2 linked regions of the Homo sapiens genome follow. The protein of the gene in region 1 interacts with the protein of each later gene in a biochemical or structural test. Each region holds a gene or a part of one and is shown on either strand. Other genes may lie near its edges.

Region 1 (6,924 bases):
TGAAAATGGCCATACTGCCCAAAGTAATTTATAGATTCAATGCTATCCCCATCAAGCTACCCCTGACTTTCTTCACAGAATTATAAAAAACTACTTTAAATTTCATATGGAACCAAAAAAGAGCCCATATAGCCAAGACAATACTAAGCAAAAGAACAAAGCTGGAGGCATCACACTACCTGACCTCAAACTATACTACAAGGCTACAGTAACCAAAAGAGCATGGTACTGGTACCAAAACAGATATATAGACCAATGGAACAGAACAGAACAGAGGCCTCAGAAATAACACCACACATCTACAACCATCTGATCTTTGACAAACCTTACAAAAACAAGCAATAAGGAAAGACTCCCCTATTTAATAAATGGGAAAACTGGCTAGCCATATGCAGAAAACTGAAACTGGACCCCTTCCTTATACAGTATACAAAAATTAACTCAAGATGGATTAAAGACTTAAACGTAAAACCTAAAACCATAAAAACCCTAGAAGAAAACCTAGGCAATACCATTTAGGACATAGGCATGGGCAAAGACTGCATGAGTAAAAGCAATGCGAACAAAAGCCAAAATTGACAAATGGGGCCTAATTAAACTAAAGAGCTTCTGCACAGCAAAAGAAACTATCATCAGAGTGAACAGACAACCTACAGAATGGGAGAAAATTTTTGCCATCTATCCATCTGACAAAGGGTTAATATCCAGAATCTACAAGGAACTTAAACAAATTTACAAGAAAAAAACAATCCCATCAAAAAGCGGGTGAAGGATATGAACAGACACTTCTCAAAAGAAGACATTTATGCAGCCAACAAACATGAAAAAAAGCTCACCATCACTGGTCATTAGAGAAATGCAAATCAAAACCACAATGAGATACCATCTCATGCCAGTTAGAATGGCGATCATTAAAAAGTCAGAAAACAACAGATGCTGGAGAGGATGTGGAGAAATAGGAACGCTTTTACACTGTTACTAGGTGCTATTTCTCCATTCATTTATCTGTAATTGTGGATCAGGACCTCTAGCCCTGCCTTGTCCCACTCTCAAACACTTCTGAGCTAATCCTAAATGCTGCTTACCATCTGGCAAACAACTGGTGAACTATTTCTGGGATTGATGTGGTCAGTAGGAAACACAAACTATGCCTAGAGCAACACAGAAAGGCCAAACACCAAGATTTATTTACCCTTGCTGTTTGCAAACCTGACGGTTTTAGTCAGGCTCTAGTATTGCAGACTGAAATATGAGGAAATCCTGCACATGCTCAGAGAAGCTGTTGGCTTTGCCACAGTTCTACGCCTAAACGTTATAATAATATTATTATTATCCCACAGGGGTGTTATGAGGATTAATGAGACATTTTCAAATCACTTTGAGCTACTCTGTTGGGGGTACTAAATAAATGCTATGTTTTCCTCTTGAAATGCCATTTTTGGCATTGATTTGTTGTGATGGGTTCGGCTGTCCAACAGGGCTAGAATGAGCCCACCAACTCATTTTCTATAGACAACAGACGAGCCGTCAGAAGGAGTGGTTTTCAGTTAAGATAAATATGAATTGAAGTGAACTAGTCGGCAATCAGAAGCAAATAGGCTGCTGTTAGAAATCTAGTATATTAAGTACTCACAGTGATCAACACAAGCGTTGCACAGTGTGATACAGTAAAGCAAACACTGGATTTGGAAATGGTCCAAGATTTTAGGCCCAGCTCTGCTGCTAACTAGCTATGTGAGCTTAAGCAAATTGCTAAACTTCTCTGGGCCCCAAATACAAAGTAAGGACTTTATATGTGTCCTAAGAAGCACATAATCAAAGTCTTCCAGACAAGGCAAATACATGAAAGGGAATGGAAATAGTCACTTATGAAGGAAAGACATTTCACAGCTGGGAGAAGCTTGTGACCATTTGTCACAGGACTATCCTCTGCTCTGGTCTTCCTTGCCATTGATTAATATTAATTTCAGTACTAATTCCTGCAAAAGAAGGAATAAATCATTTTCTAAGTCAGACATAGAAGTACATGAAACATCTGGTCTTTAAAAATAGGGTCTTTGCCTTTCCATGAGCTATCATTGCAGCAAGCAGTCTGTCTCATTCTAAGATTTAAATATATGAATGATTGATTATACTGCTACTCTAATCACCAGCTCAAAATATATACGCAAAATAATGAGGTGGCTGTCACATTCCAGTGTTCTGGAGTTTTGTAAGAGAAAGAGTTTTACGTGGTTGCCCAGTTTTGCCATTCCACAACATAAGTGACTGCCTGCATTGTCTGGCACTGACCAGGAGGTGAAACGGAAGATGAAGGGACAATAAAAGGACATGGGTGCCTGTTGTGCCCAGGAGAGCCGGAGGTGGAAATCCTATGGAATAAATGAGCAGTGTTTTCTATGGTGAGCTCAGTTTTTCCTCACTCCTCATCCTAGGAATCACAGCAGCATCTTGGGCTCAAAAAGAAGAAATGTTGAAACTCCAGAGCAGATAGCAACGCAAAGAGACACTCCTTGGGGAATTCAATCTGACAAGTATGTACCAAGTCTCCACCATTTACAAGGCACTTTGGTAGTTGCTAGAAATATAAGTTGGCTAGGACCTACTCTGTGCCCTAGAGAACCCCATGGTTGGGAGTGGTGGTGGGAAGTATTGACCACAAATCACTTACTTAAAATTGAATTGTCAGCTAACTTTGGGTGGGTGAGGAGCTGTCTAGACAATAGTTCCTCTTCTGTAAATGATTTGAATGATACAATAAAAAACAGACTTTTTAAAGCCTAGGGTTGAGTTATATTAGATTGCTAAAATTTCTGGAAACAAATTGTGTTCAAAGTAACCACAATAATTTGGAAAAATAAGTTTAAAGAAGATACATGTAAGTTATCTCTGGGCCCAGATCAAGCAAGAGGTACAAGTTGCAGAATGAATGTCCTTCCAGTTTAACAACTAGAGCGCTGCAAATTCCCTACCACAAGGGCAGTGCCAAAATATTAAGTAAAAAGTCTAGGTACAGGTCCTGCTCTCATCCCTTCCACGACAGGCTTGAGTCATAAAGCTGGACTTTCTAACCACACAACTTCGACTTCGTGAATTTCCTTTCCCATTTTTCCTCTTATTTCCCCGCCAACAGGAAACCTGTGTAGTGGATAAAGACCAGGCTGTCACTGCTAATCCCAATCAGAAACTTGGTCCTTGATTCTTCCCAGTGGCCGACATCTCCGCTGCGAAAACGGGTGTGAACTATTCACTAAAGCAGCAGGGCCCGAACGCCTTTAACAATCCATTTCCTTCGGACTCCGTTTGCGAAGCCCATCAGCACCCATTACTCCCTTTGGCTTCGCATCCTAGCAGAAGCTAAATTGTTTAAACCCCCGCTCCTCCCCAGGGTTTGGCGGTCCTCGACCCTCAAGGGAACCTGGGATGCCGGCGCCAGGCTTGCCTCTGGCCCAGGGCGCCCGCCTGGCCTGCACTCCCTCCCTGGACACTGGGCCCGCCTGCCCTCCCCGGGCTGTACCTAGGGGTGTGGAGGCCAGGGGGCCGGCGCCCGCGGGGCCGCGGCGGGAGCTCTCCCGGCCCACGGGCCGAAAACCCTGGCGACTGGGACGCGGCCAGGCGGGCCGGGGGCGAGGGGCGCTGACCAGAAGCGGGCGGAGCCTAGGGGCCCGGGCCGGCAGCCTGACTCCCCGTGGGCCGGCTCTGCTGGGTGGGCATTCCCGCGGGGCGCCGAGGTACAACATGAGGGCTCTTTCGCTGACACCGAGGGGCCTTGAGGGCTGCAAGAAATGCAGGCCCGGCGGCTGCCCCCGAGAGCGGGACGCGCGCCCGCGCGGTGGGCGGGAATCCTAAGGGGACGCGGAGGCGGGCGCGCGCCCCGCAGGGGAGGGGGCGGAGAGCGCGAGAAGGAGGGAGGAGGCGTCCCCGTGCGGGAGCCCGGCTGACCGCGCCAGACCCAGACAGAGCATCGCGGCTTTGGCTGCAACAGGCGGTGGGCTCGGCTCGGGGGCGGAGGCGGCGAAAGGGCGGGGAGCGCGAGGAGGAGCGACCTGGCCTCACCGCTGCCGCCTCTTCCCCGCCGCATGGACGAGCGCCTCAGCCTTCTGCGCTCGCCGCCGCCGCCCTCAGCCCGCCACCGCGCCCACCCTCCTCAGCGCCCAGCGAGCAGCGGCGGTGCCCACACGCTGGTGAACCACGGCTACGCGGAGCCCGCCGCAGGCCGCGAGCTGCCGCCCGACATGACCGTGGTGCCCGGGGACCACCTGCTGGAGCCGGAGGTGGCCGATGGTGGAGGGGCCCCGCCTCAAGGCGGCTGTGGCGGCGGCGGCTGCGACCGCTACGAGCCGCTGCCGCCCTCACTGCCGGCCGCGGGCGAGCAGGACTGCTGCGGGGAGCGCGTGGTCATCAACATCTCCGGGCTGCGCTTCGAGACGCAGCTGAAGACCCTTTGCCAGTTCCCCGAGACGCTGCTGGGCGACCCCAAGCGGCGCATGAGGTACTTCGACCCGCTCCGCAACGAGTACTTCTTCGACCGCAACCGGCCCAGCTTCGACGCCATCCTCTACTACTATCAGTCCGGGGGCCGCATCCGCCGGCCGGTCAACGTGCCCATCGACATTTTCTCCGAGGAGATCCGCTTCTACCAGCTGGGCGAGGAGGCCATGGAGAAGTTCCGCGAGGACGAGGGCTTCCTGCGGGAGGAGGAGCGGCCCTTGCCCCGCCGCGACTTCCAGCGCCAGGTGTGGCTGCTCTTCGAGTACCCCGAGAGCTCCGGGCCGGCCCGGGGCATCGCCATCGTGTCCGTGCTGGTCATCCTCATCTCCATTGTCATCTTCTGCCTGGAGACGCTGCCGGAGTTCCGCGACGAGAAGGACTACCCCGCCTCGACGTCGCAGGACTCATTCGAAGCAGCCGGCAACAGCACGTCGGGGTCCCGCGCAGGAGCCTCCAGCTTCTCCGATCCCTTCTTCGTGGTGGAGACGCTGTGCATCATCTGGTTCTCCTTCGAACTGCTGGTGCGGTTCTTCGCTTGTCCTAGCAAAGCCACCTTCTCGCGAAACATCATGAACCTGATCGACATTGTGGCCATCATTCCTTATTTTATCACTCTGGGTACCGAGCTGGCCGAACGACAGGGCAATGGACAGCAGGCCATGTCTCTGGCCATCCTGAGGGTCATCCGCCTGGTAAGGGTCTTCCGCATCTTCAAGCTGTCGCGCCACTCCAAGGGGCTGCAGATCCTCGGGCAAACGCTGAAGGCGTCCATGCGGGAGCTGGGATTGCTCATCTTCTTCCTCTTTATTGGGGTCATCCTTTTCTCCAGCGCGGTCTACTTTGCCGAGGCAGACGACCCCACTTCAGGTTTCAGCAGCATCCCGGATGCCTTCTGGTGGGCAGTGGTAACCATGACAACAGTGGGTTACGGCGATATGCACCCAGTGACCATAGGGGGCAAGATTGTGGGATCTCTCTGTGCCATCGCCGGTGTCTTGACCATCGCATTGCCAGTTCCCGTGATTGTTTCCAACTTCAATTACTTCTACCACCGGGAGACAGAAGGGGAAGAGCAATCCCAGTACATGCACGTGGGAAGTTGCCAGCACCTCTCCTCTTCAGCCGAGGAGCTCCGAAAAGCAAGGAGTAACTCGACTCTGAGTAAGTCGGAGTATATGGTGATCGAAGAGGGGGGTATGAACCATAGCGCTTTCCCCCAGACCCCTTTCAAAACGGGCAATTCCACTGCCACCTGCACCACGAACAATAATCCCAACTCTTGTGTCAACATCAAAAAGATATTCACCGATGTTTAATATGTGATACAAGTGACATGCTGTGCTCAGTATTGTGTGGAACGTGCCCCCTTGGTCTGCCTATGCCCTTGTTTTATACATTTCCAGACCATTCATCAAGGAAAGGACCTGAAGAAGTGGAAAGCACACTTCATTCTCCCTCTCCCTGCTGCTTCATACTGAAACAGGTGCCTGTTTTGCAAGTGGGCTGCATTCTCTCAGCTCTCCTTTTCCCTCTTACCCTCTCTCTCTTAACATTGTAAACAACAGACTTACGTTAAACTTCATTTCTAGTACACGCCCTATTTAAAAAAGAGCAGTACATCCTGGGAGGAAATGAAACTAAAGAACAGTTAGAGTAACTGTTTAACCTCAGAATTTTAAAGGCAGTTGTTTCTTTCCTAAGCACATCAATTCGTAGTAAATGATGCTTCGGTTTGATGGACCTTTCAACGTTATTTATTGAATATGTATTTCGGTTGCCTACCCTGTAGATATGTGGATGAAGAGTCTAACTAGAATAATGACTTGTAAACCCACCATGAGTTATTTGGTTTTTGACTTAAATTCCTATTTGAATCCCCTTTCCCGGAATTTTAAGTGTCTCTACAACTTTGAATAAAGGGAAATGCCCAAGATGTCCTGATCTGACTAATTAGTTTAATTCTTTCGGGCTTGCTAAGCATTTCTAAAGCATTAGACTAACAGATTCCTGTGAAGTTCTGTGCATATGTCCCAGCCCCAACAACTATCAAAGTCTAGAAACAGATGTTTTCAGTGTTGCTGAGAGAAACAAAAAATTTCCTAATGCATCTGAGAGATAAGCTTCGGCAGTATCACAAGAAGATTAAAGTGGCAGACACCCCTTCCAGCGGAAGTTACTAATTCGGACCTGACTGATGCAGTTTCCATAGCAACCCATGTTTCCTGGGAAACCCGAAAAAGGTTGTCATGGCATCTCTTGCTCTCTAGCCCCACCTCCCAGCCCCTGCCGTTTCCACAGTAACCTTTCCAGATGGTTCCTACTTAAATGATTTCATAAGGAAAACCACTGTTTGAATAAGCCGCACAAAAAATAAAGTTAAGTCTGAGACTCTAAGGAGGTGAAATGAATCCCAAATGCATTTTTTAACTATGA
Region 2 (7,497 bases), on another chromosome or scaffold:
AGCTGTGAAGGAGTCACACTGGGCTGTGCCAGGAGAAAAGAAGCAGCTGCAACCGTAGGAATCTTCATGGGAACAGTCAGCCCAGCTGTCCTTGAGCAACCAGGCACATATTCCCTAAGCCTTGGTGGCTTCTTCCCCAGGGACACAGGTGCTGCATTTCACAGTGACTTTCCTATTTCAGAGTAATTTCACCTCCTTCTCTAACAAGGCCTCACAAATGTACTGAGAGCTAGAGAGGACAACAAGTGAAAAACCACAGTGCTATCGGTGGTTCCTGGGATTGGAACAGGTGTGTAGGAAAAATTCACTCTCTTTTATGGGTGAGTTTTTAAATGTGAGTGTATTACTTTTATAATAATAATGTTAAGCATAGTAGTCATTAAGAATGTATCGATCAGGAATGAAGTCTCACATGAAAAAGATGGCAACCAGTCCCTTAATTCAAACTCTAAGCCCCAATAAGGTTCTTCTCATAGTACCATGACATTTCCTTAAGAATATTTACTCAACAAATTAAGAGACATGACAACCTGATTTGATGTGCAAATCTAGATTAAACATGTATCCAGAAACATCAACAGCCATGAAGCCATGGTTGGAACAATTGGAGAAATGTGAAATATTGACAAGATAATAAATAACATTGAGGAACTAGTTTTCTTAATGTGTGTAAATTGTATTGTGTTTGATGTGGGAATGTCCCCTCATATGTAAGAGATTCTGCTGAGATAATTACAGTGAAGTGTCATGATGTTTGCGTCTTTCTTTTTTAACTTTAAACAAATTTTTAGTACACAAAGGTTGTCACATAATTGGAAGTTTCTCTACTTTGTACACAATTATTCTCACTCTGCACAGAAAGGCTGCTTAACTTCTCATTTGGTGGTTGCAAGCACTAAAATCCTGATTTTAACAGAATAGACTACTATTCATTTTTACTAAAAAATGCCTCAGTGATTTAAGTTGAAAACAGTACATCAGTACATGGCTCTTGTACCCAGTGTCAGGAATGTACAAGATCTTTCTATTCAAAAATACAAACTAAATTATCTGTAGGCATGGATGACAGCTGTAAACCATTATATATTTTGTCAGTTGAAACCAGTAACTGATGGTTATAGTGGTTTCTTAAACATCAGCCAGCCTTTTCTTCATTTTCTCCAACTGACTTCTCTGAAGTTATTGGTGAGGAACACTGCCTTGGGCTTCCTATCACAATTCATTAATAAAGGTAAAGCACTATTCTAGGAATTAGAACAGGCCACCTCCCATTCCACACATTGCACCCATTCCAGGGCTGTTCCCTTCTTTAGGAATTTTTGTGACTACAACAGCTGCTGTAGTTAATAGAGAGGCCATGCCAGCAGCATCCAATAAAGCAGTTCTCACAACCTTTGTTGGGTCAATAATGTCTTTTTCCACCATATTCACGACATCTCCTAACATAGTATCATAACCAACTTCTGAGGAACTTTGCATAATTTTCTCAACTATCAAAAATCCATCAACACCTGCATTCTTAGCAATAGTCATTGCTGGAATTTTGAGTGTTCTTTTAATAATTTCTATGCCAATTATTTTATCTTCATTAGCTGGAGTGAATGAGTCCAAGGCTGGAATGCATCGAAGCAGGGCACAACCCCCTCCCTAAACAATGCCTTCTTCAACAGCAGCTCTTGTAGCATTAAGTGCACCTATAACTCTGTCTTTCTCTTCATTCACTTCAACATCACTTGTCCCACCAACCTTCAGCACAGCTACTCCATCTGAAAGTTTCTCCATTCAGTTTTTCCTTTTCGTATTCACTAGTTGTGACATCTGACTGGTCAATGATTTCTTGAACACATTTTTCAATTTGAGACTTGTTACCTTTTCCTTTTAAGAGCATGGCATCATCTTTGATCACAGTGACCTCTCCAACTTCTCCTACATCACGAGGCTGAACGTCTTCAAGATTTAGTGTCAGCCCTCTTCTCCAAACACTGTACCACCAGTAGCAATAACCGTATCTTTAAGCTGGTTCTTTCTATTGTCACCAAACCCTGGAGCTTTGACTGCCACAACCTGAAGACCAACCTTTAGCCTATTCAGGATGAGTGTAGTTAGAGCTTCTCCATCAATGTCTTCAGCAATTATGACCAAAGGCTTACAGTAAGCATTGGCAATTTCAAGAGCAGGTACAATGGACTGGACACTAGAAATTTTCTTTTCATGCAACAGAACATAGGCATCCTGGAATTCACATTTCTCACCTTTTGATGTATTAAGAAAGTATGGAGAAATATATCCTCTATCAAATTTTCATGCCTTCAATAATTTCTAATTCATCAGTCAGTGTTTTTCCATCCTTTACTGTGATGATGCCCTTTCTTCCAAACTTTTTCATTGCATCAGAGATGATGTTACCAATTTCTTTGTCTCCATTTGCAGAAATTGTAGCAACCTGTGCAATTTCTTCAGGTTTGGTCACAGGTTTAGACTGCTTTTTAAGTTCAGCAATTACAGCATCAACAGCTAACATCACACCTCTCTTGATTTCCACTGGATTAGCACCTTTGCTAACCTTCTGGAAGGCTTATTTGGAAATAGAGCATACCAGTACAGCAGCAGTGATAGTGCCATCCCCCAGTCTCTCCATTTGTGTTATTGGCAACATCTTGGACAAGTTTAGCTCCAATGCTTTTATATTTATCCTTTAAGTCAATTGACTTTGCATCAGTCACACCATCTTTTGTTACTTTGGGACTTCCCCAGCTATGTTCAATAATTACTGTTCTTCCCTTTGGCCCCATTGTAATGGCTACAGCATCGACAAAAAGTCTACACTTTGAAGCATTAAGGCTCAGACATCAGCACCAAATTTTACATCTTTACCATCACTTCAAGTGAGGTGAGGAGCCAGTAGCCTGGACACTGGTCTCATCTGGTGAAAGACTGTGGGTAATGGAAGCATTTCTGTGGGGTGGTGGCAGGACATGTGCATGGTGAGGCAGGTCATCAGCAGCAAGTGAGAGCTGCCTCTTACTTTCTAAAGGTGACATAGCAAGTATACAAAAAAAAAATAAAATATTAATTTAGGCAGAGCACATAAAGGCTTTATTTCATATTCCATTTCTCTGTATGCTTTCTTCACCAGGAAGAAATAGTTTTAGTGTCAGGAATGAATGAGTCTGCCCCTCAATTCCAGCCTGCTCAGCACACAAGGAAACAAAGCCCTGACAATCAGAGTGACTCCCTGGTGACTAAGCTCCAGTCCTGGATGCATATTTGTTTAGCAGTTCTGACAGCATCTGACCCAGCCCTCTCTTTGCATACCCCACCAGAACCTTCTTTTTTTTTTTTTTTCTTTGAGACTGAGTCTTGCTCTGTCGGAAGCGATTCCCGTGCCTCAGCCTCCCAAATACCTGGAATTATAGGCGTAAGCCATCATGCCTGGCTAATTTTTGTATTTTTCATGGAGATGGGGTTTTGCCATGTTGGTCAAATTGGTCTCACACTCCTGACCTCATGTGATCCACCTGCCTCAGCCTCCCAAAGTGCTGGGATGACAGGTGTAAGCCACCATGCTAGGCTCAGAAATTTCCTTTTATAAAAATGTCATTAAGGATCTTGGCTGCACAATATCGTTACCAGCTTCCTTTAAATCCACCTCTGGCCTGCCAGGAATCAGGGTTCTTCAGAACCTGACATTTTAAATGAAGAGGTCAGGCAGGTCATGAGGAAAGCCTCATTGTCCCCATGTCTCTGTCACTGCTGCACCCCTGAGACATCACAGACATGGACACTGGGGCCTGCTTGTTTCTCAAACTGCCCTTAGATCGAAAGAGGGAGGAACCAGGATGAATGCCACTCATTTTCCCAAGAAAGGCCCTCTCCTGAGTGCCCGGGATGGGGCTCTGTCCATTGCCTGGGGCCGCCAATTGCTACTCTGGGTTACGGAAGAAGGACAGGGTCCTGAGAGACACCAGAGACCTCACACAGCCCTGAAAACATGGGGCTCCTTCATAAGTGTTTCCCATCACCAACAGGGAGACCACGTGGAGGCCTTGCAGCCCTACTCGGTGCTTCTCCACCAAATCCCAAGGGCAGTGACGCTGACGTCTGTGGAAAGCAGAGAAAGCCCTGGCTCCCAAAGCCCTGAAGTCCTGTGGAGCTGACATTCCCTGAGTGACGGTGTGAATGGAAGGAACTCAAGTGCGGGTGGTAGGCCACCTCCTGGCCCAGGCCTGGGTGAACTCTGAGGGGACACATGTAGTCACAATCCCATCCTCCCATTCTCCTTCTCAGAGGAAGGAAGTGGGCATCCATCTGCCTCATCTCTCTCCCGTGGGGAAGATGGGGAGTTTCAGGGGAACTTTCACATAAATTTCACCAGCTCAGATCTCCTGTGAGGATGGGGCCCACCATGCTCCCGGTGCTGCCAGAGGCCCTGAGCCCCTCCAGGGTCCCTGGGTTTGAGCCAGCCCTGTATCATCCCCAGGAGCTGAATGTCCGAGCAATGGATAGAATTAGATGGAAAGAGCTCTCAATTTGGCCTGAGACTGTCCCCAGATACTCAGGAAAAACAGGACGTCGCACAGAGTGGGCAGCAGGTGAGTGGCAGGTTATAGGTCCTGAGTTTGAGTTTGTTCTCACGTGAGACAGACCCAGCCCCTCACTCCATTCACACACTGGGTTTTAAATGGTGCAAGATAGGAGGAATTTTCTGGTCCCAAGAGCAGGAGGAAGGGATTTTCTGGGGTTTCCTGAGTCCAGATTTGCATAAGATCTCCTGAGTGTGCATTGTTCTTTGAGGACCATTCTCTGACTCACCAGGTAAGTGGCTGAATTCTAACCTCTGTAATGAGCATTGCACCCAATACCAGTTCTGAACTCTACCTGGTGACCAGGGACCAGGACCTTTATAAGGTGGAAGGCTTGATGTCCTCCCCAGACTCAGCTCCTGGTGAAGCTCCCAGCCATCAGCCATGAGGGTCTTGTATCTCCTCTTCTCGTTCCTCTTCATATTCCTGATGCCTCTTCCAGGTGAGATGGGCCAGGGAAATAGGAGGGTTGGCCAAATGGAAGAATGGCGTAGAAGTTCTCTGTCTCCTCTCATTCCCCTCCACCTATCTCTCCCTCATCCCTCTCTCTCCTTCCTCTCTCTGTGTGTCCCCTCCATCCTTTTCTCCTGCTTCTCTCTCTTCTTCCCTCTCTCTCTTTTTTTCTGTCTTTCTTTTTCCTCTCTCCCTAGAGCATGTCTTTCTTTCTTTCTCTTTCCTTTCTTCTACCCACACTTTTAGACTGAGTAGACTGAATGCCCTATTTAATTGAACCAAGCATTGCTTCCTTCAATAGAAAAGGAGTTTGAGAACCCAATGGACAACTCACTCGTTCTTCTAAGCCAATATGAAGGAGCCCAGTAGTTTGTAAATATCATCTCTTCACTGCTTTCCATGCTACAACTGCTGAGACTATGGTTGAAACCTGTTAGGTGACTTTTTAAATAAAAGGCAGAAATTTTGATTTTATCTAAAGAAAGTAGTATAGAATGTCATTTTCTAAATTTTTATATTTAAAGAGTAGATACTGCAACCTAGAGAATTCCAGATAATCTTAAGGCCCAGCCTATACTGTGAGAACTACTGCAGCAGACACTCTGCCCCCAGGACTTTTCTGATCAGAGGCCCTGAGAACAGTCCCTGCCACTAGGCCACTGCAGGTTCACAGGACAGGGACAGCCCATTGAAACCAACTTTTAAACCTGGATGCCTAACCTTCATTTTCTCCTTGATATTATGAAAATAAAATAAAAACCATGAAAGGATAAAAGAGGGAGAGTGGAAGGGAAGGATGGAGAAAGGGAAAAAGAAAATTTGAGAGTAAATCCTAAAACAATTAATCTAATAGATATCATCTTGTGAAATCCTCATTTTACCAATCTTATTTATGAGTCCTGGGTTTTGTGAGAACAATGGGGTTCTGAGAGGCACCAGAGACCTCATATTTTCCAAAACCTAGAACAGTATAATGAAGGAAGGCGGGGAGGCAGGGAGGCAGGGAGGCAGGCTGGTGGGAGGGGGAGGGAGGGAGGGAGGGAAGGAGGGAAGGAGGGAGGGAGGGAGGGAAGGAGGGAAGGAGGGAGGGAGGGAGGGAAACAAAAAGAAGAATGAGGTTGAAACCAGGACTTAGATATTAGAAACAAGCCATTACAAAATTTATTTCTATGGTTAATTGTGGTTTTCAACTGTAAGTTACTTGGTGTTAATTTCCTATTAAACAATTTCAGTAAGTTGCATCTTTTTTATCCCATCTCAGATCAAATACTTAACAGACTAAATGATTTGAAAAAGCAAAAGTTTACTGGCTTGTGTGTGTTAAAATGGAGGTATGGTGGCTTTGATATTATCTTCTTGTGGTGGAGCTGAATTCACAAGAGATCGTTGCTGAGCTCCTGCCAGACCCCACCTGGAGGCCCCAGTCACTCAGGAGAGATCAGGGTCTTTCACAATCAGGTTCTACAAAAATAAACATCCCCCAAACCACAGCAGTGCCAGTTTCCATGTCAGAAACTTAGATCCAAATGACTGACTCGCGTCTCATTATCATGATGGAAAAGCCCAGGCTTGAGAAAGAAGCCCGCTGCGGATTTACTCAAGGCGATACTGACACAGGGTTTGTGTTTTTCCAACATGAGTTTTGAGTTCTTACACGCTGTTTGCTCTTTTTGTGTGTTTTTTCCCTGTTAGGTGTTTTTGGTGGTATAGGCGATCCTGTTACCTGCCTTAAGAGTGGAGCCATATGTCATCCAGTCTTTTGCCCTAGAAGGTATAAACAAATTGGCACCTGTGGTCTCCCTGGAACAAAATGCTGCAAAAAGCCATGAGGAGGCCAAGAAGCTGCTGTGGCTGATGCGGATTCAGAAAGGGCTCCCTCATCAGAGACGTGCGACATGTAAACCAAATTAAACTATGGTGTCCAAAGATACGCAATCTTTATCCTAGTAATTGTGGTCATTGGATGATGTTGGTTTGGGCAGGCCATCTCTAATATCCTTGAAACACCTTTTTCTGCTCTCCAGGAAGGGGTCAGGGCTGCCACAGCGGGGCTTGGAGTGCTTTCCAGGGTCACAGGCATCTGTATTCTTTGGATTCCTTGACCTTCCCCATTTATTCCCGGCATTTTCCTAAAACGTGTGCTTTGCTCCTCCTGCATCCTCCCCTTGCATGCCCTCACCTATCCCACATCTTCCCTAAAAAAAGCAAGCCCAACTCAAAGACCAGTTCCCTCATGGAATCATAGTGGATCTGCCAAGGGAGGGGATGCCCAGTCCTCTGTTCTTCACAAGGACTCCCTTCTTCTGGCTAAGGTTTCTTATGCAATTATGCCTCCTACAGAGGTGCGTGAATTTTTAATTCTCCATTTAGCTATGAGATTTCTACTAGTGTGGACTTTGTCTTATTCATTTATGTGCTGGCCATTCATAAACTATTTCATTAATTGGATGGCAAAATGCAG

What was found. The genes of interacting proteins can lie anywhere in the genome.
Region 2: the proteins of KCNA3 (region 1) and DEFB4A form a complex in vitro, tested with the Homo sapiens proteins (one study listed by BioGRID).

What each region holds. Positions count from the first base shown.
Region 1 is NC_000001.11:110,671,965-110,678,888, reverse strand, and holds KCNA3 (potassium voltage-gated channel subfamily A member 3), read left to right. Parts: upstream 1-3,948; 5' UTR 3,949-4,079; coding exon 4,080-5,807; 3' UTR 5,808-6,424; downstream 6,425-6,924.
Region 2 is NC_000008.11:7,889,746-7,897,242, forward strand, and holds DEFB4A (defensin beta 4A precursor), read left to right. Parts: upstream 1-4,931; 5' UTR 4,932-4,967; coding exon 4,968-5,025; intron 5,026-6,728; coding exon 6,729-6,865; 3' UTR 6,866-6,971; downstream 6,972-7,497. UniProt on the Homo sapiens protein: Exhibits antimicrobial activity against Gram-negative bacteria and Gram-positive bacteria, with highest activity against Gram-negative bacteria.